Homo sapiens: one gene and its partner. The protein of the gene in region 1 purifies or fractionates together with the protein of each later gene. This does not show direct contact. Each region holds a gene or a part of one and is shown on either strand. Other genes may lie near its edges.

Evidence for each region.
Region 2: the proteins of TEX9 (region 1) and NOL4L purify together in Homo sapiens (affinity purification with mass spectrometry; 3 studies listed by BioGRID and IntAct, with this or other methods). This does not show direct contact.

Annotation. Positions count from the first base shown.
Region 1 is NC_000015.10:56,356,510-56,371,366, reverse strand, and holds the start of TEX9 (testis-expressed protein 9), read right to left. Parts: upstream 5,942-14,857; 5' UTR 5,917-5,941; coding exon 5,890-5,916; intron 5,789-5,889; coding exon 5,697-5,788; exon of another isoform or gene 5,474-5,696; intron 3,360-5,473; exon of another isoform or gene 3,315-3,359; intron 1-3,314.
Region 2 is NC_000020.11:32,579,591-32,594,662, reverse strand, and holds the start of NOL4L (nucleolar protein 4-like), read left to right. Parts: upstream 1-9,329; 5' UTR 9,330-9,772; coding exon 9,773-10,093; intron 10,094-15,072.

The DNA of each region.
Region 1 (14,857 bases):
ACAGTCACTGAAATTAAGAACTCAAGGAAATTTGACAGATATGTTGAACAGCATAATGGGCATAGAAGGAATGAGTGAATTAGAAGACAGATATAAATAAATCACCTACAAGGAGATACAGAAAACAAGGGGATAAAAACACAAAAGACAGGTTAACATCCATTGAAGACAGATGTTATGTTCCTACTTAACAGAAGTTATAAAAGAAATCCCAGAGAGGCCTGGGTGCAGTGGCTCACATCTGTAATCCCAGCACAGTGGGAGGTGGAGGGAGGATCACTTGAGGCCAGGAGACCAGCCTGGCCAACATAGCGAAACCCCGGCTCTACTAAAAATACAAAAATTAGCCAGGTGTGGTGCTGCATGCCTGTAATCTCAGCTACTGGGGAGGCTGAGGAATGAGAATCGCTTGAACCTGGGAGGCGGAGGTTGCAGTGAGCCAAGATCGTGCCACTGCCACTCCAGCCTGGGCAACAGAGCAAGGCTCTGTCTCCAAAAGAGAAAAAAAGAAATCCCAAGAGGAGAGAATGACAGTATTTCAAGAGCTAATGCTGAGAATTTCCCAAACTGAAGACATGGATCTCATGAAGAATAAAGAAAACAAATCCACCTGTGTATACATCACAGTGAAAATACAGAATTTTAAAGAGAGTACTCCCTAAACTACCAAATCATTATTTCAAAACAACAGAGAAAAATAGTCTACCAGCATAATTATCTAAAAAGCTGACAGCAGATGGCTCATTAACATTTCTGACATTCTAACATTTCTATCCTTATATTACCAACAGACAATATAAGGATATCTTTAATGGGCTGAGAAGGAAAAGCTGGCCATCTAGAATTACATTCAGATAAACTGTAATTGAAGAATAAATGCAAAGTAACAATTTTCAAAAAGACTGGAGAGTTTAAGACTCAGGTTTTCACAAAAAGTAATAAAGGGTCTACACTTCAGGAAGGAGGAAATTGAATCTGGAAAAAAAGAATTATGAAGATATCTGAAAACATGATAAATCTAAATTAGTACAGACTATAAAAAAATTGATGATTAACTGGGTGTGGGTGTATTCAAAACAACAAAGTAAAATATTATCTAATTTAAAAGACAGAGGACACCAAGTTAAAGCATTCTAACGTCTTTCCACATCACTAAAAATAAAGACATAATGAAAACCCATTCAATCCAGCAGAAGACAGACAAGAACCAAAGACAAGACATAATAGAAAATATAAAAAATAAGGTGGCTAAGACAACTTCAAGTTATGTAATAATGTAAATATATTAAATTCACTTATTAATAGGCAGAAATTATCAGACTGGTTATAAAAAGAATGCTCTTACTGATAAATGACATACAAAGTTTGAACATAAAGGGATGAAGAAAGATAGACACTGCATAATAATGAATCAAGAAGATTTAAATAAGTCAAACAAGATATTCCCAAACAAAAATGGCCACATTATAAGGAATTTTTTTAAACTATAATTATAATTGATGATTTTTAATACACTTCTAACAGAAACCAATAAAGCTGCAACAAGAAAAAAGGTGAGGATACCGATGTCATGAAGAACAAATATAAAACAGATTAGCCAACAAATAATAAATACATTTTCTATCAAAGAACGCATAGAACTTTTACAAAAAGTGAACAAGCACTTGGCCACAAATAAGTCTCAATACATTTAAAAACTTAATATCACATCAATTCTCTAATCATAATGCAATTTAAAATAAACTAGGCTGGGCCTGTAATACCAGCACTTTGGGAAGCCGAGGAAGGTGGATCATTTGAGACCAGGAGTTAAAGACCAGCCTGGGCAACATGACGAAACCCCATCACTACAAAAAATATAATACAAAAATTAGCCAGGCATGTTAGCACATGCCTGTAGTCCCAGCTACTCAGGAGCCTGGGAGATGAAGGTTGCAGTGGGCTGAGATCACACCATTGCACTCCAGTCTGGGCAACAGGGTGAGACCCTGTCTCAAAAAAAAAAAAAAATTAGCATGGCATGGTGCCATGCGCCTGTAGTCCCAGCTCCTCGGGAGGCTGGGGTGGGAGAACTCTTGAGCCCAGGAGGTGGAAGCTGCAATGAGCCATAATCACACCACTGCACTCCAGCCTGGACATCAGAGCAAGACCTTGTCACATACATACTCAGAAAAATAAAAACTAGACAACAGTAAACAAACAACCCTATGTGCTTGCAAACTAAAAAACACACTTCTAAATAATTACTATGAAAATCGTATAATATTTAGAACTAAATAACCATAAAAGAAATATACATCAAAACAAGTCCTGGAATATAGTTAACCTACAGTTGGAGAGAAATTTAAAGACTAAATATATTTATTAAGAAATAAGAAAAACAATAAATGAGGTAAATAAACTAAAAAACAAAAAATTAATCCACCCCAGTTAGAAGAGATCATTTGTCTTTATTTCTGTAAAGATTAATGAAATTTTAAAATAGCACAGATTAGCAAGAAAACCAAAGCTGGTTCTCTGAAAAGACCAATAAAACAGATAAATCTCCCAGGAAGCTTGATAGAAAAAGAAAAAGACAAAAATAAACAATATTGGAAAGCTACCAAAAGGAGGGGTGTACATGGTTATGGATACAGTCAAGATTTCAAACATACCACCATAGACTCAGTTTATGCTAATGTATTTTAAAACATACATGATATGAACACTTTTCTAGAACAAAAAATTATTTTAGAAATAACCAAAAACTATTCTAGAAATAGTACATCTAATCATTAAAGAAGCTAAATGCATAGACAAAAAGAATCCCCTTGAATAAAAGAACACTAGACTCAGACAGTTTCACAATTTTAATCAAAGGGCAGAAAATCTCTAATTATAAAAAGCTTCCAAGAAAAGAATCAAAAAAGGAAAACTATTCGGCTTCTTTCATACAGACAGAATGATACTGATATCAAAAACAGAAAGGAAAAGAAGTAGAGAAAAACTACAACACCCATTTCACTTTTGTTCATAGATGCAAAAAACCTACATAAAATTATAGCAATCAAATCTAGCAGTCTTTAAAGGAAAACAAGAAACCTGCCTTTGTAGTTCAGTATGTTAAAACATTAAAGGAGGGAAAAAGAACATACCAACAGCTGAATTAATTAGGGAAAAAATAAGTTTTGATACATTTAACACTCATTCAAATTAGGAATTAAGGGGAAGAATTTTAAACATAATAAAAAGAATCTACCAAAACCCTAGAGCAAACCTCAAATGTAGTGATTATTAAAAGTGGGCTTCTCAAAATCATAAACAAGGAAGCTCACCATCACTTTTTCTATTCCATATCACACGGGAAGTCCTAAACAGAGAAAAAGAGAGAATGTAGGAGAATTATCAAGGGACAAAATGATCAAAATTTGCATATAATTGTCTTCATCAAAAATCCAAGGGAATTCACAGAATGAATAAGAGAGTTCAGCAGGACTGAAGATCTGTGTGTATATAAACGCAGATGTAGCATCAACATCTAAAAATTCTACATTTATAACCAATTAGAAAATAGAAAAAATTCCACTTATTATATAGCAACTATTCAGTACCTTGAAGCAAATTATATACGCAAGAATTTTATGTAGTAAAATGATAAAACACTATTAAAGGTAAAAACCCATAAATGGAGAAGTATCATATTCGTGGAAAATTCAATAGCATAAATAAGTCAGTTCTCTACAAATTAATCTGTAAATCCAATGTAATTGCGATTTATGAGGGGGCTTGCCCTACCAGTTATTATGTTATCTTATTGTTTAGCTATCTGGTATTATAATACAGGAATGAAGCTTGAAAAATCTATCCACTTGAGCGATTAGCATCTTCCTTAGTCTATCCTTTCGGACAGTGATTATTTCCTCCAACAGAAGCAGAACTGCAAAAGGTTTTGGATTGAGGTCCCTGGGAAGTAGCATTCTAATGATCAATGCCAAGACAACAGGTGGCAAAACAGATACCATACTGTTATAATTTCATATTCTTGCTTACAGGGATGGCCAGACATTTTACTCTTCTACATGACACAGAAGTATTCTAGAAGATTCAGGTAGTGTAGGGAGTTACTCTGTTCATATGCTTCAGATGTGCACAACTCAGAGTACAGATAACAGAACAAGTAACAACTGGCCACCATATAATACTGTTTAGCTATCTCGTTTTATAAAGTAACTCGTGCTAGAATACAATAATAGTCCCTGTATATTTCTCATTTTAAGCAGGACTGTATCCCTAAGGATGCACCAGAACCAGGTGCAAAATACACTCTCAAATAACTGAACAAATAAACCTAATCCAGGTATTTAATACTATATGGTTAATGATAATGAAAATAACCGTTTTGATTGAGGCATAGCTGATAAAGAACTATATATAGAAAACAGATTAATTTGCTTAAGTACACTTTTGAACTGGGATAATCGGCCCATTTCATCAGAGAGAAGAAGATATGATTATCTTCCTACTTGCTGTGGTAAATTGGTCTGTGTATAGTTCACCTAAACACAGTACCTTTCAGTTTTAATTTCAAATATGCTTATAGATCATATGTAGATCATACGATAACTCTAGTTTAACCCTCTGATACAAACTGCCAACTATTTCCAAATTTTAATCTAGTTATTTTATATTAAAACGGAAGGGAGTTGTTAAAAGGCACTTTTTTATAAGGGTATGTATGATGGCAAATAAAACAGACATCGCCTCTGCCCTTGGAACTTACAGTCCAGTGGAGACAGACAAAAAGGAAATTCACAAATGAATTTATTGTAACAAATTATGCTAATTAGAAAGAAAAATCACTGAGACAATGAAAAAGACCAACAAGGGAGCCTACTTAGCATGGTCAAGGAAGGCCACTCACATTACAGGTTGAAGGCGTGTGTGACTGTCTCTTTCCTGAGATAGAAAGAAAACCTGGAAGAGTTTTTGGAACTAAAAGGCCAGTGAAGCTGGAGAGTTTTAGGGGGAAAAGGGGAAGAGGGAATAAGATCAAATAGAGGAGGCAGGAGGAGCCACATCGATCAGAGCTTTTGAAATGCAACAGGAAACTACTGTAGAATTTTAAGCAAAGGCATGGTAGATCAAATTAAAAGATTACACTGGCTGCTGTGTGAAAACTTGGGGATGAGGAGTAGAATGGGCCAAGAATGAAAGCACCGTTGTCAGGATAGTTGTAATTACACTGAGAACAGATAAGAAAAGGAATATTTGAACGAGAATGGTAATTCTGATTGCAGTGGGAAGCATCCTTTCAATTTAGAAACCAACCTAAAGGAAATTTACACAAGGTAAACTCTATGAACTTGATATTAAGCGAAATAACCTAAACTATCAAGTGAACTAACTATTCGTGGCAATTCCTGCTACCCAAATAACTTCCAACAGTATCTTGCTGTTTACTTGGGCTACGTTTTAAATTAAACAACATGCTTACTTGGGCTAAATTTTCGCCCACTTCAAATATCTTCTAATACGCAGGCGAACTACTCAGATCAAAGACAAAGAAAGGATAAACGGCAGGTGAACGAGATGACGAGAAGGGAATGCTGCAGAGTGAGTGGTCCCGAAGATCCAGCCAGTCTCCAGAAAAAAGTACTTGTAAGCAGCCTCATTCAGATGAAAGAAAGAAGGAAAAGTTCAACCGCCGAATTTCTTACTTATATTCTTCCTCCAAGGCGAGGAGGTCGGGTCCAGGTGTAGAGGGTTGCTGAACGGGTGGCGGGAACGGAGTCCCTGGAACGCTGCTTCTCTGTAAAAGAGCCACAGACTTTCAGACCCGAAGTTAAAGGAAGTTAGGCGTCCTAGTCGCCGGAACCCAGACGCTCCCCAGGAGCCTGGAGTTGAACTGACCGTGAGACACAGACTTCGCCCCGCCATCTTCGGCGACTGCGACGCGGTTACCGAGGCAACGACGCATCTTCCCGCGAGAGTTTCCACATCCCGGTTGCCTCCCGCCCGGGCGCCTACGCCTTCCCACTCTCAGGTTCTGTGCTGCGAGCGGCGCGAGCCTCTGGCAGCGGGCTCGGCCTTTGCTCGCAGCACTCGGCGCTGTCCCAGGAACCCAGGAAGGCTTCCTAACTGCAAATTCGACTTAGTTAGTGCAAATTCTCAACTTGTGGGGGTTGAAAGAGTTTCAGCCAAAACAGGCAGGTCCTTTGCCGCTACTCTATAGAAAGCAAGCTGGTGAGGCAATCCCTCCCTGTTGTGCTTTTCAAACCGTTAGTGGCTAATCCGACCTTCACCCCGTTTGCTTAAAGTGAGCTCTTCAGTGGAATTCAGAAGTTTTGATTTCTAATTTTTGTTTACAGCATGCATGGCTAAGACTCAGGCTCTCAAGTTAGTCAACCTAAATTATTATCCTGGCACTGCCACTTACCAGTTATATGGCCTTGGGCAAATCACTCTGTATATCGGCCACTTCATTTGTCAAATGGAAGTGAGAATAGTGCCCACTTCACAGTTATTATGAGAAGCAAATGAATTCGTGCTTAGGATCATGCCTGAAACACGTAAGCGGTTAACAATTTCAATTGTTTTGGAATAAAATTGACATCCAAAAATAAACCGTGATATGATGTATGGTCATCTGATCTTTAGAAAGGGTGCAAGACCATTCAATGGGAAAATAATTGTCTTCAACAGATGGGGAGACAACTGGATATCCAAATGCAATTAGACCCTTAACTTCACACCATATACAAAAATTAAAATGTATCAAAGACCTAAACTTAGGAGCTAAAACTCTAAAGCTCTTCAAAGAAACTGTTGGTGTAAATCTTTATGACCTTGAATTACAATTCTGAGAATCCTTGATGGATTCTTAGATATGACACCAAAAGCAGTAGCAAAAAAAAAAAAAAAGAAAAGAAAAAAGAGGCTGGGCACAGAGGCTCATGCCTGTAATCCAAGCACTTTGGGAGGCCAAGGCGGGTGGATCACCTGAGGTTGGGAGTTCAAGACCAGCCTGACCAATATGGAGAAACCCCGCCACTCCTAAAAAAAAAAAATTAGCCGGGTGTGGTGGCTCATGCCTGTAATCCCAGCTACTGGGGAGGCTGAAGCAGGAGAATCGCTTGAACCTGGGAGGCAGAGGTTGCGGTGAGCTGAGATTGCACCATTGCGCTCCAACCTGGTCAACAAGAGCGAAATTCCATCTCAAGAAAAAAACAAAAAAAAGGAAAAAAAAATAGATAAACTAGACATTATCAAAACTAAAAACCTTTAGTTTCAAAAGATACCATAAATAAAGTAACAAGACCACAGGAAGAGGGGAAATTCTTGCAAATTATATATCTGATAAATAACTTGTGTCTGGACTATATAAAGAAGTATTAAAATTCAAAAATAGGTAGGTGCAGTGGCTCATGCCTGTAATATGAGCACTTTGGAGGCTAAGTCAGGAGGATCACTTGAGCCCAGGAGTTCCAGACCAGCCAAGGCAACACAGCAAGACTCCATCTCTACAAAAAAAAAAAAAGGAAATAGATAAATAAAAATTAGCTGGGTCCAGTGGTACATGCCTGTAGTCCCAACTACTAGGAGACTGAGGTGGGAGGATCACTTGAGCCAGGGAGATCAAGGCTGCAAAGAGCCATGGTCACACCACTGCACTCTAGCCTGGGTCACAGAGTGAGACCCTGTCTCAAAAAAAAAAAGAAAAACAATTTAAAAAAATTTTTAAAAAAGACAACCCAAGTTAAAAATGGGCAAAGAAATAGGGATTTCTCCAAAGAACATATACAAGTAGGCAAAAAGCACATGAAAAGATGCTCAGTATTGTCCTCAGGGAAATGAAAATTAAAACCAAAATGAAATGCCACTTGACACCCACTAGAATGGCGATAATCAAAAGGATGGATAGCCAGGCGCGGTGGCTCACACCTGTAATCCCAGCACTTTGGGATGCTGAGGCGGGCAGATCACCAGAGGTCAAGAGTTTGAGACCAGCCTGGCCAACATGGTGAAATGCTGGGAGATAGAAGTTGCAGTGAGCCGAGATAGCACCACTGCACTCCAGCCTGGGTGACAGAGGGAGACTCCATCTCAAAAAAAAAAAAAAGGATGGACAATAACGTGTAGAGGAGGATGTAGAGAAACTTGAACCCTCATAAACTGTTAGTGGGAATGGGAAAATTGTGCAGCCACTGTGGAAAATGGTCTAGCAATTCCTCAATAGTTTATACACAGAGTTACCAAACAATCCAGCAACCACTGCTAGGTATACACCCAAGGAAAATGAAAACACACCCACATGAAAAGTATATGTACAAATGTTTATGTCAGGATTATTCATAACAGCCAAAATGCAAAACAAACCCATAATGGTCATAAACTGATTAGTAATTAAATAAAAAGTGGTATATTCATACAATGGAATATTATTCAGAAATGAGAAAGAATGAAGTACATGTATACCACAATATGGATGAACCTTGAATATATTATGCTAAGTGAAAGAAGCCATTCACAAAAGACCAAGTATTATCTAATTTCTTTCACAAAAGATCACATACTATAGGATTCTATTTCAATATGACTACATATTGTAGGAAATGTCCGCAATAGGCAAATCCATAGTGACAGAAGTAGATTAGTAGTTGTCTAGGCTTGGCAGATGATGGAGGGTTAGCTAAGGAGTTGCAGGGTTTGGGGGGCGCTAGTGAAAATATTCTAAAATCAATTGTGTTGATGGTGTACAACTCTGTGAATACACTAAAAGCCAATTAATAGTACACTTTATATGGGTAAATATAGATATGTGAAATAAATCACTCAAGCTGTTAAAACATCTTAAAAATAAACTATTTACAACATCGAGGGATAAAGAAAGGAACACTATGCTAGCACTAATCAAAAGGAAGCTGGAGTCGCTATATTAATTTCAAACAAAGATGACATCAGAACAAGGAAAATTATCAGGGACAAAGAGGAGCATTAATGATAGAGGTCAATTCTCCAAGGGGATAGAACAATCCTGGTGTAAATCCTCCTAACAGTAGTGTCAAAATGCATGAGGCAAAAACTGGTAGGACTTGCAAAGAGAAATAGACAAATCCATCATTATATTTGGAGACTTCAATACTACTCCTTCAGTAATTAACAGGTTAAGCAGGCAGAAAATCAGCAAGAGTTGCTCTGGACAGCACCATCAATTAGCTTGATCTAATTGACATTTATAGAATACTCATTTCAATAACAGCAGAATACACATTTTTCTCAAGGTCGCATGGAACATTCACCAAGCTAGAACACATTCTAGCCATAACACACTTTAATAAATTTAAAAGAATATAAATTATATAGTTTAGGGTAGCTGTAATAAAGCACCACCAAGTGAGTGGCTTAAAACAACAGAAATTTATTGTCTCATGGGTCTGGAGGCTAGAAGTCCAAAACCAGGCTAGAAGTATCACCAGGACTATGTTTTGCTTGAAACCTGCAGGGGAGACTCTTTCTTTGCCTCTTTCTAGCTTCTATGGTGGCTGTCACTTCTTGGCATTCCTTGGCTTGCAGCTGCATCACTACAACCTCTCTCTGCCTCTATAATCATGTAGCATTTCCCCTGTGTGTTTCTGCTTTTGCATGGCATTCCTGCTTTTCATGAAGACTCCAGTAATATCGGATGTGGGCCACCCTAATGACCTCATCCTAACGTGATTACATCTGTAAAGACCATATTCACAGGTACTGGGGGTTAGGACTTCAATATATGGTAGGGAGGGGGAGGTGGCACACTTTAACCTATAACCGAAATTATACAAACTATTTTATTGTGGTCCCAGAGCACAATAAAACTAAACTAAAAATCAATAACAAAACAGCTGGACACCCACAAAATATTTGCAAATTAAATTCATACTTCTAAATAATACATGGATCAAGTAAATATCTAGAGGAATTAAAAAAACATTTTGAACTAAATAAAATTTGAAATATAACTTATCAAAACCTGTGGAATGTTATGAAAGCAGTGCTTGGAGTGCTTAGCATTCAATGCATATATTAGAAAAGAAGAAAAATCTAAACTCTGAATGTCTACCTTCAAGGCAGCTAAAGGAAAAATATTAAACTTAAAGCAAAAGAAAAGTAACAATAAACATTAGAACATAAATCAATGGAACTGAAACAGGGAAACAATAGAGAAAATCACAGAAACCACAATCTAGTTAAAATCAATAAACTTATAGCTGTGCTAACCAAGAAAAAGAGAAGATCCAAGTAACCTGTTCTGTGTTATTTTCTGTGATGGTCAGTCAGGTGTGGCCATGAGAGGAAAACAACATTTATTATACTCACAGGTCCTAGAAATAGGACGCATGCCATGCCATACAGGGTTACATGGGGAAGCCTCGGGATAGTCAGGAGGCAGAAAACAGGAGGAAGAGAAAAACCTGGACTAGAGCCTCTATTGGAGTTTCCACAGGAAAAGCAAGGTAGAGTAAACCCATTAGGATTGGCTACTATGAATAATTTCAGAGGGCCCCGGAGTATAAAGGTTGTCCTTAATTATCTGGTACATAGCTCTGCAATGGCTAAGACAGAGGAAGGCCTGTTGTATATGGACCAGACAGAAGAGGTATGGCTTCATATTAGTTTTTTATATATCAAAGCCATGCTCCCTGGCTAAGCCCTTTTGCTTAGCTAAGAATTGGCTTGCCCCAGGAGGAAGCAGTTTCTCCCAAGCCAGAAAGGATTTTTTAAAGATGTCTAAACATCATAATATACAGAAAATTAAAAAATATAAACAATACAGTACCAACATTAGAAATGGAAAATAAGTCATCAATTGTCCCATGAAAATTAAAAGGATAATAAAGGAATACTATGAACTCTATACCCCAACATTTAATAAATTAGATGAAATGGACCAATTACTTGAAAGATACAAACTACCAAAACTCATGCAAGGAGAAATAGATAATCTGAGTAGGCAAGGACATTGAGTCAATAACCTTCCAAGAAAGAAATCACCAGTCCCAGATGGTTTCTCTGGTGAATTCTAACATACATTTAAGGAAGAAATAACAATTCTACATAATCTTTTTTGGGAAAATAAAGGCAGAAGGAACACTTCCCAACTCATTCCATGACTCTAGCATTACCCTAATACTAAGAGCAGTTAAAGACATTATAGGAAAACTACAAGCTGATATCCCTCATGAATATAGATTTTTAAACCCTTAACAAAATTTTAGCCAATATAATCCAACAATGTCTAAAAAGAATTATGCAACACAATGGAGTGGGATTTATTCTCAGTATACAAGGATGGTTCAATATTCTAAAATCAATCAATGAATTCAGCACATCAAGAGGATAAAGAAGAAAAATTATATGATCATATAAATTCATGCAGCAAAAGCATTTGACAAAATCCAACACCCCTGAAGGTACAAACTCTCAGAAAACTAGGACTACAGGGAAATATCCTCAAGTTGATAAAGAACTTCCACAAAATATCTACAGCTTAATGAAATTGGATGCTTTCTCCCTAAGATCAGGAACAACACAAACATGTCCTTTATCATCATTATTATTTAATATTACATCTGAAGTTCTAGCTAGTGCAATAAGACAATAAAAGGGAATAAGGAGTATACAGATAAGGAAGGAAGAAATAAACCATCTTTGTGTATAGATGACATGAATGTCTATAAAGAAAATTTTTTTAAAAAAGAAAATCCAAAAGAAGAAATAAAACTCTCCTGTAACTAATAAAATGATAAAAACAAAATTTGTGTATACATAGAATGGACAATACAATAATATTCAGCCTTAAAAAGAAATGAAATTCTGAGACATGCTACTACATGAATGAAACTTGAAAGCATTTTGCTAAGTGAAATAAGCCAGACACAAAAGGACAAACATTGCATAATTCCACTTATTTAAGGTGCCTAGAAATGGTTAATTCATAGAGACAGAAAACAGAGTTTACCAGGGACTAGGGAGAGAGGAAAATAGGGAGTTATTTTTTCATGAGTACAGAGTTTCTGTTTGAGATGATGAAAAAGTTCTGAAAATGGATAAAGATTATTAAATCATTGCACAACTTTATGAATATATTACATTTAATGCCACCAAATTAAAATATGGTTGACATGGTAAATTTTATGTATATTTGACCACAATAAAAATTTCTAGTAAAGGGGTATCCTATAAAATATCCAACCAATACTCCTCAAAATTGTCAAGGTCAACCAAAACAAGGCTGTGAAACTGTCACAGCCAAGAGGAGCTTAAAGAGATATAACAGCTTTGTAAAGTGATTATATTAGTCTGTTCTCACACTGCTATAAAAAATACCTGAGACTGGGTAATTTATAAAGGAAAGAGGTTTAATGGACTCAAAGTTCTGCATGGCTGGGGAGGCCTCAGGAAACTTAACAATCATGGCGGAAGGAGAAGCAGGCATGTCTTACGTGGCGGCAGGAGAGAGAGCAAGTACGTGAAAGAGGAAATGTCAGACACTTATAAAACCATCAGATCTCATGAGACATCACTCACTATCACGAGAACAGCATGGGGGACACCACTCCCATGATTCAATCACCTCCCACCACGTCTCTCTCTTAACACGTGGGGATTATGGAGATTACAATTCAAGATGAGGTTTGGGTGGGAACACAAAGCCTAACCATATCAGTGACATACTGGACCAAACCCTAGAATAGGAAAAGACATAGTAAAATACAAGGAATTCTGAATAAACTATGGACTTCAGTTAATGTATCAGTAATGGTCTACTAATTTCAACAATTTAACCATATTAATGTAAGATCGTAATAATAGGGAAAACTAGGTGCAGGGTATATGGGAACTCTCTCTACGATATTCTCAGTTTTTCTGCAAATGTAAAACTTCTAAAAAATTAAATCTTTTTTTTTTTAAGTTAAAAGGGATTTTCTTCTTCAACAAAATTGTGAGCTAGATGATCTGGGACACCCTTCCACTGCACAACGACCAGATTCTGGAAAAAAAAAAAAAACTTATCTATGCATTACTGAACTTGAAGAAAGTAGGAGAAATTTCCATGTGTCCTCCTGACATCTCATTCTCCAGATCTCTTCCCCACAAATAAACAAGATCTTCTGATAGTAGGCATTTAAGAATAAAAAGGTTAAGCTGAGAAAATGCCCCAGGGAACTGTATTCAGAAAACAAGGCTTACATCAACAGCAATATGGAAGAGCTGAATCTGAGACCTCTGTGCTAATCTAGAAACCAAAAAGGCTAAAAGTCATTTAGACTGGTAGTGCCCCAACGGTCCTAGCAGATTCAAACACAAATCTTTTTCAAGAAAAAATTTCTAGTTAAGCCCACTAAATTCCCAGGTTAAGATTAAGACAATGTGAGTTCACCATCAAAAATCACCAGACATAAAGGAAGCAAGTCACCATAAGTGCAAAATTAGAAGAAATAACAAATATTTAGACTTCCAATAAATTCAGATATTAAAATTTTATCAGCTGTGAAATAGAGAAAATCTATTTAGAAAGAAATAGAAATAAGGGACAGAATCACAACAATGAGCAAGCAAAAAGAGACCATCAGGAATGACCAGGCAAATATGATAAATAATCAAATGAAGCTTGCAGATATTAAACACATATTTGTTGAAATGAAAATACTCAATGGACAGGTCGAATGGCAGATTATAAACAGATAATTAGTAAACCATAACATATCTGAAAAAATTATTCAGAATGAACAGAGAATGGTTAAACAGTACTGAAGTTAGACTGAAAAGATCTGACATATAAAAAAATCGGATTTCAAGAAGGATAGATTTGAAAAATTGAGAAGCAATACTACAAAAGTTAATTCCTTAGAATTTTCCAGAATTTAGGAAAGATACAAATATGTAAGTTCAAGAAGCATGGTGCATCACAAAGAGGATAAATTTTTAAATATATTCCTGGAGCTGTCATAATGCCAAAACACCAAAGAAAAAAGAGATCTTTAAAGCAGCCAAGAGGAAAAAAAGACAAATAACCTACAAAGAAGCAATTAAAGTAGGTGTTTTAATAGCTACAATGAAAGCCAGAAATACAATAAAATAATTAGCAGAATTTGATGATGATAAGCCCCATTATAATGAAAATTTGGATCAAGCATGCTTGGTTATTAATGACCAATTACTCACTAATGAATGGCAGCCTTCTGTCTAGTTCTATTCTCAAACTGGGTAGGACAAACTTCTATCTTCTGAATTTATAGGGTAGGGGACATAGTAAGGGATTGGTGGGAAAAGTCAGCACTCTATCTCAGGAAACAGTGAGCCTGAGGATGACTCCTTTATTGACAGTATTCTTATAGCCCTATCTCTTTTGATTAGACCGACTAAATGGGACCCAGCTAAATACGAGATCACTACAATTGCTGCCACTGTTCTGGAAGTCCTAGCCAGTGAGACAGGATCCAGAATTGGCACCATTTGACATTTATTTTGGAGCAGATAGCCACCACCACCACCATGTGATGCCAAACCACAACCAGGATGAGCAAATATTTTAATTATAGAGCCAGACCACTGGAACTTCTAGTCAAACAGCTAGACAGGCTCAAGTGACTCATTTCTTTAATTATCACAATAAGCCCACTCTTCTTTTCAGGAAGTTAAAAATATTCAACCTCACTAATCTTAGTATGAGGGGATTTTACTGTATCTTAAAAGTGATCAAAGAAAATAATTTCAGTTTAGAACTGTGCACTCATTCACCAATACTGTATTGCAAGATGAGGGTGAAATAAAGATATCTTTAGATAAATAAAACCTAAGAGATTTGGCACACACGTATGCCTACCAAAGGCACTTC
Region 2 (15,072 bases), on another chromosome or scaffold:
ACGCAGTCTTGCTGTTCAGGGGAATGGAAGGTTCAGTGTGGTTGGCACAGAGAGAAGTAGAGGCTGGAACAAGATAGTGAAAGGCCTTGAATGCCACACCAAGGAGTTTGAACTTTATTCTGGTGTACCAGAAGGGAAAACCTAGAGGCCAGGAGTGCAGAGAGGAGGCTGGTACAGCCATCTGGGCCAGACCAGAGGGGGTCTGACTGCACTGAACAAATGGTACATCCGTCAGGGCTCATGGGGTTGCAGGAAATCCAGCACTGAGAGACCTAAGTGAAGAAGAAAAGGGCCTTTAGGTGTGGTTGAATCCAGGGGCTCAAAGGGTGTTGTCAGAAATCTTTTTTTTTGAGATGGAGTCTCGCTCTGTCACCCAGCCTGGAGTACAATGGCGTGATCTTGGCTCACTGCAACCTCTGCCTCCCAGGTTCAGGTGATTCGCCTGCCTCAGCCTCCCGAGTGGCTGGGATTACAGGCATGCTCCACCACACCCGGCTAATTTTTGTATTTTTAGTAGAGACGGGGTTTTGCCATATTGGCCAGGCTGGTCTCGAACTCCTGACCTCAGGTGATCCGCCTGCCTCGGCCTCCCAAAGTGCTGGGATTACAGGCGTGAGCCACCGCACCCGGCCGGTGTTCTCAGAAATCTGGTCACACTCACGGTGGTTGGGGCATGGGATGGTTTCAGTGGCCTAGTCATTCAATGCTTTCAGTGGTCAGGTCAGTATGGCTCCAGCAACATGCTCTGAATATGAAGGAGGCGGTTTCTCAAAGGGATTTCAAGATGCTGTTACCAGGAGAAGAAAGTTGCTATGCAGGTAAAAGCAGCAGCCCATCTTGGTGGATGGCGAGTGCCGCGGACTTGAGAGGAGGATGGGCACTTTCCCAGCCCAGGCCCCCGGCGGTTCTGAGGCTGAGGCATGTAACTCAGGGCTGGTGTGGTCAGGGCAGGCTTCATGGAGGAAATGGCCTGGAAGGAAGACCTGAGCAATTAGGTAGGGTCTGGGTAGACAGAGCGGGCATTGCAGGAGAAGGGGCCAAGAGAACAGAGGTGCAGAGGTGAGAATGAGCCGTAAGTGTTTGGCTGCCTGTGACATGCCAGGTCCAGAGAGCTGGTAGAGGGAGGTGAGGCTGAAGCTAGATGTTAGAGGTTCTCGAAGGCCAGGCACACTCTGGCCTGACTAGCAGGCCTCTTACAATATATAGGTCAGGGGGAAACAGTGGCTTCATTGCTCAGCAGCCTCCCATGGCTCCCTCCCCATGTCCCACCAGGGAGGCCCAAGGCTTAGCCAAGCATTCAGAGCCCCAGCATGCCCACTGCTGGGCCCTGGTGCTCTCCCAGGTGGGCATGCCCACCACAGTGCAAACAGATCGCTCCCTTTTCCCTCCAGACCTCCACTCGGCTGCTTCTCTGGCCTAAAACACACTCACCCTTTGGTATCTCCATCTACCCGCTGAAGGCCGGTTAAAGGTCTCAGCCTTAAGGAAGCCTCCCATGGAAAGCACCTACTCTCAGTTTTCAACTCCCAGAGCTCTTCCTTTTTATTTTTATTTATTATTTATTTATTTATTTATTTTTGAGATGGGATCTCACTCTGTCACCCAGGCTGGAATGCAGTGGCCACTGAAAGCACTCCATGCCCCCCTGACCACTATGATTGTGACCAGATTTCTGACAATCGTAGCTCACTGCAGCCTCCAACTCCTGGGCTCAAGCAATCTTCCTGCCTCAGCCTCTTGAGTAGCTGGAACTACAGGTGCACACCACCACACCCCACTAATTTTTAAAATTTTTTGTAGAGATGGGGTCTCACTATGTTGCCCAGGCTGGTCTCAAGCTCCTGGCCTAAAGTAAACCTCCTACCTTGGCCTCCCAAAGCCATGAGATTATAGGTATGAGCCACGGTGCCCAGCCAAGAGCTTTTTTTTAGTGTTTTTTTTTTTCTTTTTTCTTTTTTTTTGAGACAAGACTGGAGTGCAATGGCATGATCTCAGCTCGCTGCAACCTCTGTTTCCCAGGCTCAAGCGATTCTCCTGCCTCAGCCTCCCGAGTAGCTGGGATTACAGGCGTGCACCACCACACCTGGCTAATTTTTGTATTTTTAGTAGAGATGGGGTTTCACCATGTTGGCCAGGCTGGTCTTAACTCCTGACCTGAAATGATCCACCCACCTCAGCCTCCCAAAGTGCTGGGATTACAGGTGTGAGCCACCGTGCCAGGCCCGTTTTTTTTTTTTTTTTTTTTTTAATGCCCATTGGCCCAGCCAGCCTGAGTGGGGCGGGATGGCAGTAATGTGCCCTGGCTTTAGAGCCAGGCAAATCTGGGTGCAAACCCTCCTCTTGCCCCACCACTAGCTGTGCGACCTCAGCACATTTAAGCCCTGTATGAGGCTTAAATGTGGTTATAGGTACGAAGTTCTTGGCACATAGTAGGCCCTCATGCAGCTCTCACCATTTTGGTTATTTGAAATATGTCCACTTCAACCCTCTATGAGCTCAGGCCAGGCAGGAACCACACTTGTTTTTTTTTCTGCCTGCACTGCCTGGCACACAGAAGGGGACTGACTTGTAAGGGCTGACCTATCAATTTTCCTGGGCTGGGCAGACCCAGGCTCCCCTCCCCTCCCTGCCTGGGTGAGGCTGGGGTAGGCCCGAGGGCCCTACACCTGCTCCCTGAGACTGACCCAGCAGGCTGCTGGGTGCCAGCATCCAGCATCAATAAATTACTGGTGAGTTCAGGTGACGGGACAGATCCAGTGTCAGCTTCCTTTGTGTCCTGCAGAGAGGCTCAGGCCCTGGGATCCCCCTTCACAGGCCTCCCCCAACAAGGGCTCCATCAAAATGACAGAGTTGCCCACCTACTGTGTGCCAGGCCCCACCTAGGCACTTTGCACCGTATTTGATTGACGCTTCACAAAGATTCTGCAAAGCAGGCACTAGCTCCGTTTTACAGATGAGGAAACCGAGGCTTAATGAAGGGAAGTGACTTGCCAAAGACAAAATGAATATAAGCAAAAAAGGCCCCTGCCTCTCCAATTCAGCAGAAATCTTCCTGGATCTCATTGCAGTGTATAGTCAAAATACACACACACACACACACACACACACACACACACACACACACACACACTCTCTCTCTCTCTCTCTCTCTCTCAGGGATTTTCATTCATTCATTTATTCAGTAAACACATATGGGACACCTACTACGTGTCAGGTATTGTTCTGGATGTTGGAGATACTGCAGTGAACAGGACAGAGCTCTGCCCTCTAGGAATGTACATTCCAGTAGGTGAGATGAACAGAGACAGGAAACAAATACATATGTATTATAAAGGAAGGTGGCACTGAGTCCATGAGGATGAATCAAGTAAGGAACGGGAATGGAGGGCCACTGGGGGACTTTTAAGAAGGGCAGTCAAGGAAGGCTCCTCAGGGGAGGTGACATTTGAATGAAATCCCTCGACAAATTAGTTCTCTTATCTCTTTATGCTTTAGTTTCTGGAAAAAAGGGGATGCTGGACTCGAGCGGGTCTCAAACTCTGCAAGGTGGACAGAATTTTTTCCCACTCAGTCGTAATTCCACAGGCAGTGTGGCGCGGGCCACTGCAGGAGTAGAGACACTTTTCTCCTCCCCTCCACTTTGCCCAGTGCTCCATCTTCTGGTCCAAAGGACCCTTAGGGCACTTAGAGTGGGACTTCTCGAAGGTGCTGATCTGGGCGCCCCGCTCCCCTGCCATGTGTTCTCATGGCAACTTTTTTTTTCTGAGACAGAGTCTCACTCTGTTGCCCAGGTTGGAGTGAAGTGGTATGATCTCGGATCACTGCAACCTCTGCCCGCTGGGTTCAAGCAATTCTCCTGCCTCAGCCTGCGGAGTAGCTGGGATTACCGGTGCCCACCACCACACCTGGCTAATTTTTGTATTTTTAGTGGGCGGGGGCGGGTTTCACCATATGGGCCAGGCTGGTCTCGAACTCCTGACCTCAGGTGATCTGCCCACCTTGGCCTCTCAAAATGTTGGGATTACAGGCGTGAGCCACCACACCCAGCCTCATGGCAACTTTTTGTTTTTAATTCTAAACCCATTTGTTATGATTTTTTTTTTCTTTTTTGAGACAGTCTCACTTTGTCTCCCAGGCTGGAGTGCAGTGGCACAATCATAGCTCACTGTAGCCTCTACCTCCAGGGCTCAGGCAATCCTTCCACCTCAGCCTCCCAAGTAGCTGGGACTACAGGTGCACACCACCACCGCTGGCTAATTTTTTTGTACTTTTTTGTAGACACGGGGTTTGGACATTTTGTCCAGGCTGGTCTTGAATTCCTGGGCTCAAGCAATCCACCCACCTTGGTCTCCCAAAGTGCTGGGATTACAGGGGTGAGCCACTGTGCCTGGCCTGTCATGATCTTTTGAAAGTCAGCTAGTCCCTGAGCTTCATGGGTCAGGTCCCTCTTGTTTATTACTGTATTCCAAACACCAAGCATGGTGGCTGACATACAGAAGATGCCCAAATAAACGTCTGAATGATGGATGGGCATAATGACAATAGGAGCTAGCATTTGTTGAGTGCTTATTCTCACGACAGCCCTGTGAGTTAGGGATAATTATTAATATTCCCATTTTATCGGCATTGAACACTGAGGCTTAGAGAGATTAAGGGACTCAGTCACTCAACAGCAGAGCCTGTTAGGAGAAGCACAATAAATGCTGATGGATGGATTGATTATGGAGGAAGCATAGTAGCATGGTGGAAAATGCTGTAGACTTCAGTCTAGCACCTGCTTTTTGAGGATAAGCCCATTCATTCATTCATTCATTCATTTGGTTGGTTGGTTGCTTATTTATCCATTTATTCAATAACGTTTAAGCCTTAGCTCCTGTGCTGGGCACTGGTCGACACAGGTAATGAGGCCATCGTGAAATGCTGTGGTCAGAGCTGGGAGGGGGAAAGCCCAAGGCTCTATGAGTGACCAGAGAAAGCCCCTGACCCAACCTGAGAGGTCAGGAGGCCTTTCTAGAGAGGTGGGCGTACAGCAGCGGCTCAGCATGGCTGGCAGACTGCAGGGGGATGCTATAGAATAGGGGGATGGCAGGTGGTGGCACAAGCCCTTGATAGAAGGGGCACCAGCACCCAGTGGTGGTAACTACCTCTCCCCAAGGCTCTGGGGCCTCTCTGCTCTTCCTGGCCCTTGCGTGGACAGGCCTCTGTGGGAGCCTGAGTCACTCTGCCCCACCCCAGGCCTGGAACTTCCTGTGGCACAGTCAGGGCCACCTCACTGTCAAGTTGCAGGCATCCCCGCTCATCTGGGCCCAGGGTCAGAGCTCAGTGAAAGGCAGGTGATCTGGGCCAAATCAGGCAAAGGCCAGGTACCTGGTTCTGTCCTGCGGCCCTGAGCCTCTTTGCTCCTGTGGGACTCAGTTTACCCATCTATCAGAGGCAGGGTTTGGACTGTATACTCTGAGAACCCTTCATCACCAAGCTCTTGTGACCCATTACATTACTATCTGTATTCAGAGTGGACGTGAGCCCTGGGGGCTTGGACTCCCTGTGCTTCAACTCCAGTCTCCCTTGGACACCTGGACGAAGTGTGGAAAAAAAAAAAAATCCAGAGGCCGGGCATGGTGGCTCATGCCTGTAATCCCAGCACTTTGGGAGTCCAAGGCGGGAGAATCACTTGAGCCCAGGAGTGATTACGTTACTATCTGTATTCAGAGAGGACGTGAGCCCTGGGGGCTTGGACTCCCTGTGCTTCAACTCCAGTCTCCCTTGGACACCTGGACGAAGTGTGGAAAAAAAAAAAAAAATCCAGAGGCCGGGCATAGTGGCTCATGCCTGTAATCCCAGCACTTTGGGAGCCCAAGGCGGGAGAATCACTTGAGTCCAGCCTGGGCAACAAAGAGAGACTCTGTCTCTACAAAAAATAATTAAAAAAAAAATAGCTGCGTGTGGTGGTGCATGCCTGTGGTCCCAGCTACTGAGGAGGCTGAGGTGGGAGGATCACTTGAGCCTGGGAGGTAGAGACTCCAGTGAGCAGCAATTGCACCACAGCACTCAGCCTGGGAGACAGAGCGAGACCCTGTCTCAAAATTTTTAAAAATGCAGAGGATCTCCTGGCCTTTGATTCATGGGGCAGCCTACTTTTTCCTTTGGCAGGTGTCTGGAATGGAAATCAAAAAAGAGCAGCTGCCCCCTGGGACCGTGATTGCATCCCCCCAGGAGTTGGGCATTGTGGGAGACTTACCCCACACCCCACCCAGCATGCCCCTCCTAAAGGACCCCAGTGACACGGATAGGCTGAAGACCCAGGGTCTGTTTCTGCAAAAGTGGGGATGGGCCGCAGTAGGCTGTTCTCACTCCTTGGCTGTTCCACTCTCCCAGGAGCCCTTGGGGCAAGAGGCTGGGACGTGCCTGGTGCAGTGAGCTGTCACACAGTAGGGACACCTCCAGGCCTCTGACCTCCAAGACCACAGACCTCTGGACCCCTGCAGCTGCCCTCCTCTCCTCACTTCTTCTCTACCCCACAGTCCTGCTCGTTTAAAACTCGCCAGTAGCTCCCATAGCAGCTGGAATGCCATCCAAAGTATTTCCCAGGGTCTTCAAGACTCCTGCCCTCCAACCCCTCCTCCCTCACTTCAGTCTCACCACACTGGACACCTTCCAGCTTCTAGAAAATGCCAATCTCCTTCCACCTTGGGGCTTTTGCCCTTGCTCTTCCCTCATCCTGGAATGCAGGAACAGCATGCCTTGGCACCTGTCATTTAAGTCACTGCTCAGATGCTACCTCCTTAGAGGGGCCTTCCCTGATCCCCCTAAGAAAAGCAGCCCCTTCTTTGCATTATTTGCTATCACAGCTCTCTCTTTCCTTCGTGGCCCATTCCCCGGGCTGTTGTGATCAATAGCTGGTTTGTTCAATAGCCATCTTCCATACCCATTGGTGCACTCCCGTAGGGCAGGGACCTTGGGGATCCCATGACCATATCCCAAGCCCCTGCTGCACAATGGCTGCTAAACAAATGTTTGTTGAATGAATGAAGCACAAAAAGTGCCAACAATGCCTGTCTTCCTCCTTGAATACTTCGAGGCCCCATGAGGGAGAAAATGGCACTTACTGGGCACCCGTCACAGCTCAGGCACTCTCATCCTGTTGAATCTCTACATCTGTGACATCCTGTCCCGCTATACAGATGATGAAGTAGGGGCTCAGTGACCTGCCTGAGGTTACCCAGCAAAGGGTGGAATGATGGCTTCATTCCATTGTGAAGTAGCCAAGTGGGACCTGTGAGCATGAAGAATGCCACGCCAAATAATCATCAGGATTCACTTCCAAATCTGACTCCACCCGAAGCCCATGTTCTTTTCATTATACTATACATTCTGCTGTGCCAGAACTCAGCCCAAGATTGACAACCAGGTTTTTAGCTTCTGAAAGGCAGGCAAAGACCCAGCCTGGGTGGAGAGGTGGTCCGGCTTAGTGGTTATTGAAGTGGGTCCTGGAACTGGACAGAGAGACCAGGGCTCACACAAGGACCCCACCACCCAGGCACAGGGCATATTTGCCACAGTTATCATTACCATTGCCAGGCTAGAGCATCTCTGCTCTCAGGAAGAGTGTGCTGGAAGGATAACCGTCAAGGGACACATGGAAAAAGTCAGGGTCTGAGCTTCTTAATCACAGAAGCCCCTGCGCCCCTGGGGCTGGCCTTTGGGTAGTGCCTTCCCCGCTCTGAGTGGTCACCTCTTAAAAACGGGCATGCATACCAGCATAGATCCAAAAAGAGCTCTTGAGAAGATAAAGAGGAAAAATGACTGTGGAGTTGTTGGTGTATATAAAGTAACATGAAATGTAAATTATCTAAAAATAATCTCCCATGTGAAATGCAGAGAGAGGTTGGGGCTTGGGAGACCTCTAGGGTTCTTTCAGCATTTACTGGCACCTACTGTGTGCCAGGTGTTGTGCTAGGGCCTGTGCATATGAGGATGGGTCAGATATGGCCCTGAGCATCTGGAGCTCCCTGTCTACTGGGGGAAGTGAGCCAGGTATACACAGCGTGGGGCTCTCTCCGAGCGCGGTGAAAGGGGAAGAGTTTGTGTGTGATATGGCAGCAGCAGCCAGATGCACATGAGCTGAAACCCACCCCTCCTTCCTGCATGACCTTGAGCAGGTCAGGCCACCTCTCCAAGCCCCAGGTCTTCGTCTGTAAAATGGAGCCATTCCCTCTGCCTCTCAGAGTTGCCAGGACATGGCACGTAGTAGGTCCTGGGGTGGGGGACTTTGGGATGGGAGTAGACAGTAGTTCCTACGCAGGAAACGGTCCTGCACTAGACAAAGTCTGGGCCTCAGGACTTGGATGGTGACTTGCCTGCAGGAGTGTCATGGGGACATGGGGTGGACCCCCGGGGACAGCTGGGAGAGAAGTGCAGCAATTCCTCATGACCTGTTAAGGAAGTGGGGGGTAGGGGCACAGAAATCCTGGGGAATTGGCCTGTGCCTTTATTTATGTTGGTAATTTCATTAAGGGGGAGGGGACCAGCTAGCTCTACCCAAGGTCAGATCTGCCCAGGTAGGAGGGGGGCGGTGGGGCTACCTGAGTTTACTCAGCAAGAGATTCTAGGTCAAGGCGCACTCAGGAAGGCAGGGTGTCTCAGGATGAGTTTGTGGATGTGTTGAGAGTTTTCTGAAGCGGAGGTGGGATTGGGCTGAGGCCACAGGCGACTTCCCAGGGGGCCTGGGCCTGTCCCAGAGCAGTGGGGCAGGCAAGCAGAGGCAAAGCTGGCCAAACTTCGGGGAATTCAGGGTGAGGCAAAAGGAGAGGAAGTTTGGGGGCCCCGAAGGGCGGCGATGTGGGGTTCCCCCAGGGGAACACTGCTCTTCTGGCTTCGGCTCACGGGAGAGGTCAAGTCACTTGCGGGAGCGAGGGAGGGGGAGCCTGCCCTACACCTTCCCGGCCTGGCTAAGTGGGGCGGGGCGGCCGGGAGGTCGGCGTCTGGGCTGGGGTCTGCGCCCTACTCCCCGCGGGACCGCCGCGTCCGGGAGGAGCGGGGCCTGCGAAGCTCCGGGCCCGGCCCGGCCAGACGGAACGCGGTTCCTGGGCTGGGCACTGCGCGCCTGTGGTTCCTGCCCTCCCGGCGGCTGCGGGCGCGGCTGCCCCCGCGCCCCCAGGGGCCGGGCCGGGCGGGGGCTGGGCCCGGCGGGCGGGCGCAGGAGGAAGGGGGGGGCGGGCGGCGGCGAAGGCTGCGCCGCTCTAACAGGTGGGATCCCGCGGCGTGGTGGAGGCGGGCGCGGGAGGAGGAGGAGGAGGAGGAGGAAGAGCCGCGGCAGCGGGAGCCTGAGCAAGAGCAGGATGAGCCGCGCAAGCTGACAGCCACTGCTGCCGCCCGCGCCCAGGCTCGGTCTCGCTCCCAGCGCTCGGGGCCGCTCCCCGCCTCCCGCCTCCCCCGGCCGCCCGCGGGGCGGCCCGCCCCCTCTGCACCTCCGGGCCCGGAGCTGCCTCCATCGCTCCTGCATCCCGGCCGGGGGGAGGAGGAGGCGGAGCAGGAGGCGAGCCGGAGCCGCCGCCGCCAACGCCGCCGCCGCCGCCCGAGCAGGACAGAGCGCGCCGCAGCCCCGCGCGTCCGGCCGCCGCCCGCGCCCATCCAGCAGCCTCGCCGGAGCCACACCGCGGGACAGACGCGGCCGCGGCGCGTCCCGGCCCGGTCCAGCCCAGCCCAGCCCAGTCCCGGCACCGGGCGGCCCGGCGGCCGGCCCGCCCCCGAGGGCGCCGGGCGCGGCGGGAGGATGCCGAAGCCGACGCTGCTGCTGCGCGGGGGCTGGGAGCGCGAGCGCAGCCCCGGGGACTCGGAGCTGGGCCGCCAGTTCCGGGACTGGTGCTTGCGCACCTACGGCGACTCGGCCAAAACCAAGACGGTGACACGCAGCAAATACCAGCGGATCGCCGAGGTCCTGCAGGGCGGCGGCGGGACTGGCGCGGGCAGCGGCCCCGCAGCCGGCGAGAAAGGCAAGTTCCAGTTCTGGGTGCGCTCCAAGGGCTTCCGCCTGGGCAGCGGCCGGGAACCCAAGATGGGCCAAGTGGTGTATGTGCCGGTCAAGACGGGCTCGGTGAGTGCGCGCGCGGCGGCCGCGGGCGGGTCCCGCCGCGGGGCTTGGGGCAGGCGGGCGGGGGCGGGGTGGGGGTGTGGATGTGTGTCCGAACGTGTGTCCCTGAGGTTGTCCGTGTGTCGGGCCCGCCGGAGGCGCACGCGTCCCTGCTCACCGGCCCTTCCCGGCTCGCCTGGGCAGCGCTCCGGGTTCGGGGCGTCCCTGCCCCCCTCCGCGCCGCTGCCCGGGCCGTGGCCGTGCCGGGCAGGCTGTCCCGGGCTGCTCACCCCAGCATGTTCCGTCCTCTTGTCCCCTCCCCCCGCCAGCAGGCGGCTGCTCTGGAGCCCGAGCCTCCCCCCGCCCGCCCCGGGGCTGCCTGTCCCGGGCGCCTCGCGCTCCCGCCCCCGGGCCGGCTGGGCGGTGTGTGTGTGTGTGTGTGTGTGTGTGTGTGTGTGTGCGCGCGCGGAGGGTGGTGCCGCGGGGTGGGGGGGGGGGAGGGAGGCAGGGGCAGCCGCGGGACGGGGAGTCCGCCGGGCCTCCCAGCGCCAGGGGAGGGGGCCCGCCCGGGCACTGTCGCCCCGACCCCACCCGGGGCTGGCCCGGGGAGGGGCGGCCGGAGCCGCAGCCTGGCGCAGGAGCAGCCTCCCGCGGGTGGGTGGGGCGCCCCCTCAGCCCCCCGGGCCCCTCGTTCCCCCTTCATGGGACGGGGGAGGCCTGACCTATCCATCCCCTCCCCTCCCCCGTCCCCCGGGCCGGCCCGGTCCGGGCGGGGTGGCGTGGGGGAGGGGGCGGGGAACCGCAGCCGCCTAAAGGGAGGAGGCGGGCGGCCGGGCGGGGGCGTCCCCTCTGGCCCGGGGCGCCCTGGAGAGGGCGTGCGGCGCGGGCCCCGCGGCTCCCCCGCCGGGACCTCATTGTTCTGCAGAGGGTGGGGGCTGGGGGGGGGGCGGCCGCTCCCGGGGCGCTGCTGAGCTTTGAACTTTCCGTCGCCGAGACCCTCCATTAGTGCGTTCCGCCCCCGGCCCGGTCGGGCCGCGCCGGCCTCCCCCCGCCCTCCTTGCTCCCTCCCCGGCCGGAGCGCGAGAGCCGGGCCGCCCCGCGCCGGCCTCCCTCCCTCCCCCGCTCCCCCGCTCCCCCCTCCGCGCTCCTCCCCCGGCCGGCCCGCCCGCCCCGCGCTCAGCCCCGTCCCCGGCCGGAGCGGGCTCTTCACACACAATTGATTCGGTCGTTACGAAAAGTGCACTTGTCCCCTCCCCCTCCCCCTCCGCGGCCGCCCGGGCCGGGCCCGCGGGGTGAGGGGGCCGCGAGGGAGGGAGGCGGGAGCCGGGGAGCAGATCCGGAGGCGCCTCCCCCCGCGCCCAGGGGACGGGGCTGCAGGCCGCGGGGAGTGGGAGCCGCGAGCGCGGAGGGCGGGCGGCCCATCTGCGAGGAGCGCTGATAACCGCGCTGCGGCCGCCAGCAGCCCATCTGCGCCGCTGCCGCCTCCGGCCGGACCGGGAACAGGGGGCCGGGCAGAGGGGCGCGCCGGGACCGGGCTCCCCGAGGGGGAAGCTGGGGCAGTGACCCAGCCCGCGCAAGGCTGGGACCCTCCCAGCCTAAATCAGCACTCTCGCTCAAACCCGGCGAGTCTGGGTCATTGTCCCCTCCCCCGATCGAGTCCAGGACCCCTCCCCCAGCCCAAATCAGTGCCACTTTCCCAGATGGGGAGTATGGGTCAGCCCTCCCCACCCTGCCAGGTCGGTCCCCTCCTCGGTTCTCCCATCTTGGGTCACTGCCCCCCGCCGGAGGGCGGTTTTTCTGAGGTCAGTGACCCACGAGATGGTTGGCTGGGTCTTGCCCCCTACCCTAGGTCAGTGCCCTCTGCCATCAGGGCTTCCCGGGTCGGTGCCCCACCCCACCCCCCCATCCTGGTTACACCTCCCTGAAGAGCTGGAAGCCTTGGCCCAACCTTCTTAGTCTGAGGCAGGAGCCCTGAGTCCACCCTCTCCTGGAGTTGGGGGGTGACCCCCCAGACCTGGCAGCTGGCTCACTGGCTTTCTGTGTGGCTCGACTTCTCCCTAGGGAGTGGGCATCTGGAGCAGTCGTCCACTCTTTATCCACACAGCTGTAGAGGCTGAGCACCCCCTCCCCCTATCCAGGCCACATGCAGAAACTGGGTGCTGGGCCTGGACCCCAGGTCCTGCCGGCCCAGCTGCTGGCTTCAGATGCTCCTTGAGACCCACGCTGACCCGCTCTGCCTGCCCCTGGCAGCGCGACCGTCCCCAGTCTCCACCCTGGCTCTCAGACCAATAATGAGCCCTCCCCAAGGGACCACCTGCCTGGGAGGCAGAGAAAGGGGACCCAGGCCTCCCAGTCCAGGCTGCCAGGAGATCGACAAACACAACAGACGTGCCCTCCCTCGACAGCCCGCCCCTCGGGCTCCCCACGCCCGCCTGCCTGGCCTGCTGGTCCCGAGAGCCCGTCAGTTACCTGCCACTCGCCCAGCCAGCCGGAGCCAGGCAGGAGATGCCACCCCCATCTCCAAGTTCTTTCCTGGGGCCCAGTTATTATTTTTATATTTCCATTTTCCTTTTCACTGATCCAAGAGGAACAAATCCTGCTGGGAATTCTGGGGCAGCCATTGGCCTCTTCCTGGGAGGGGCTGAATGGGACCTCCTTTGAAAGGTGCAAAGGACGTCTCCCTGGCCTACACACACACACACACACACCCCCTCACCCCTGGTGTCATTTGGGAGAGAGCCTGTAGTTTGGTCCTCGGTGGGTTTTTGTGAAGGTCATTGGGCCATAAACCTTTGTCAAAAGCATTTGTTTAGTACCCACAGTCCTTGTGCGGGCACTGGGGTGCTCGGGTGGGTGGGGCTGTGTGCCTGCTCCCAGGTCACCCAGCTGTCGGGGGTGGTGGGCATAGCTGAGGACAGGATAAAGAAGCCCATGGGGGCTTCAAGAGAGAGCAGGTAGAAAGATTCCAAGGAAGAAGGGAGGTGGGAGTTGGGTCATCCAGCAGACAGGCCCCATATAGCCTCTGTCCCCAGGGTGGCCATGGTGTGTCACCTCTCTTCCCCATTGCTCTCTGGCTGCCCCCACCCTGGGCCTCCCTTCCTCCTCCCACAGCCATATGCGGTGCTGTGGTCAGGGCCCTCTCCTAGTCCCGGCCAGCCTCGGGTCGATGATCTGACACCACTTGTCCTGTCCCATCTGGCCCTGAGCTTTTCTGGGTGTGTGTGACAAAGGCTTAATCTGTCCGGACGGGCCCAGGGCAGAGAGAGGGCGAGGGGAATTACACTCCACAGGGCCTCCTGCAGCTGGGGCCCAAGTGGGGGTGGGGCAGGGCGGGGGTCGAGGAGAAGCCTGGGCGTGGGGGAGAGGCAAGTTGGCCTCCAGTTTGCAGGTTGTCACAGGAAGTAGAAGGTGGAAGCAGGGTATGGAGGAGAGGAGGGCGGAGTCCTCCACGGGCAGCTAGGGGTGCTGGTGGGGATAAGATCTCTTTATGACAAGAGCCAGCTGGGGGCCTCCTGGCCGGGTGAAGCCTGGTGAGGATTTATTATTTCTTACGTTTGGCCTGCTCCAGGCCTGTGGGCTGCCAAGCGGGGGAAGCAAACCCCTTGGAGACAAGACCCTCCAATTCCGTTCCGGCATTGGCCACAAAGTAAAACAACCCCTTTCCTTTTCCTCTGGCCTCTCTGAGTGGAGCGCGTGGAGCCGTCCCCAGAGCCTGCGAGGGCCACAGGTTACGGCTGAGGTGGGGCCCTGGGCTGTCTGTCAGTTCCTAGGATCAGAGAGCCCCAAGTCTCCGTGGAGAGATAGAGGTTCTCAGCCCAACTGTACCATCTTCCAGATGGGAAAACTGAGGCCTAGAGAGAGGAAGTTTCCATTTGTTGAGAGCCAGGACTGGAACAGGGTTCTCTGTGCACTGCTGTAGCTTCTCCGTGGACCTGCCACATGCCAGGAATCCCACCGTTAGAGCCCCATTCCCCAAGGGAAACTTCGAGATTGCCAAACTCCACTCTCAAAACCAGGCTTTTGCAAGCTGGACCCCAGGTGTTCCACTACCCAAATTGACTAATGGTGGTCTTTTCCCAGTTTGCAACAACGTTCATTTAGTGGAAAGCATTTTGAGGCCTAAGTCTTTCTCCCCAGAGCTTTTGTGTAAACCTTTGGCACCTGCGGCCGCTGGTCTGGGCGGGAAATGGCCTCTGACTTAGCACCGCGTAATATGTGCTGTGACCTTTGGTTGAGTCCCTCAATATTTCCTGGTTTTCTCTGAATTATCAGTATAGCGGCTGTTTCGGGGGTCACCTACTGTGTGCCTGTCACTGGGCTGAGGCGCTGATACGCATCAGCTTGTGGAATTCTCACAGCAGCCTAGAGGCCAGTGCTGTGATTACTGCTACCTTCACATGAGTAAACTGAGGCTTAGGGAGGTTCAGAACTTCCCCTAGTCCACACCAATGCCAGGGCCTTGCATACATCTCCATTCTGACTTTGAAGGGTCTTGCAACCTGATCCAATTTGAAAGCACAGGTCCTTCATGTCAAGCTTTCAGTCCATTACACTTTAGTCTGAATTAGTTTCAAAGCATCCCTCTGGTCAAGAGGTCTGTATTCACAGGCTGCTGCCTGAGGCAGGACTGGCACAACATAAAGTCTGTGGGCTTTCCTAGGGCTCATGAAGATGGGTGTGGGGTGGGGAGGAGGGAGGATGCCTCTGTTGTCCTGGGTCCTGGGGGGGCTTTTGGAAGAAGGTTGACAGTGATGCCTGGCACAGGCTCCATTTGCATTTTTTGTGAGTGGCAGAGCGTGCGTTTTTGTCAGTTACACGTTGTGATTTGGGTGGCATGGTCCTGGGTAACTCTGGGGGGCTGCATTTCGGTGCCAGGGTGATGCAGACAGGTCAGGCTCTGCCTTCCTGGGGCCTCCCCTCTAAGTCCTGGGTCACTGTCTGCTGAGGGGTGGGGACACCGTGCACCCTTCTTCCCTGGGTAGGAGCTGGTAGGAAAACCCTCT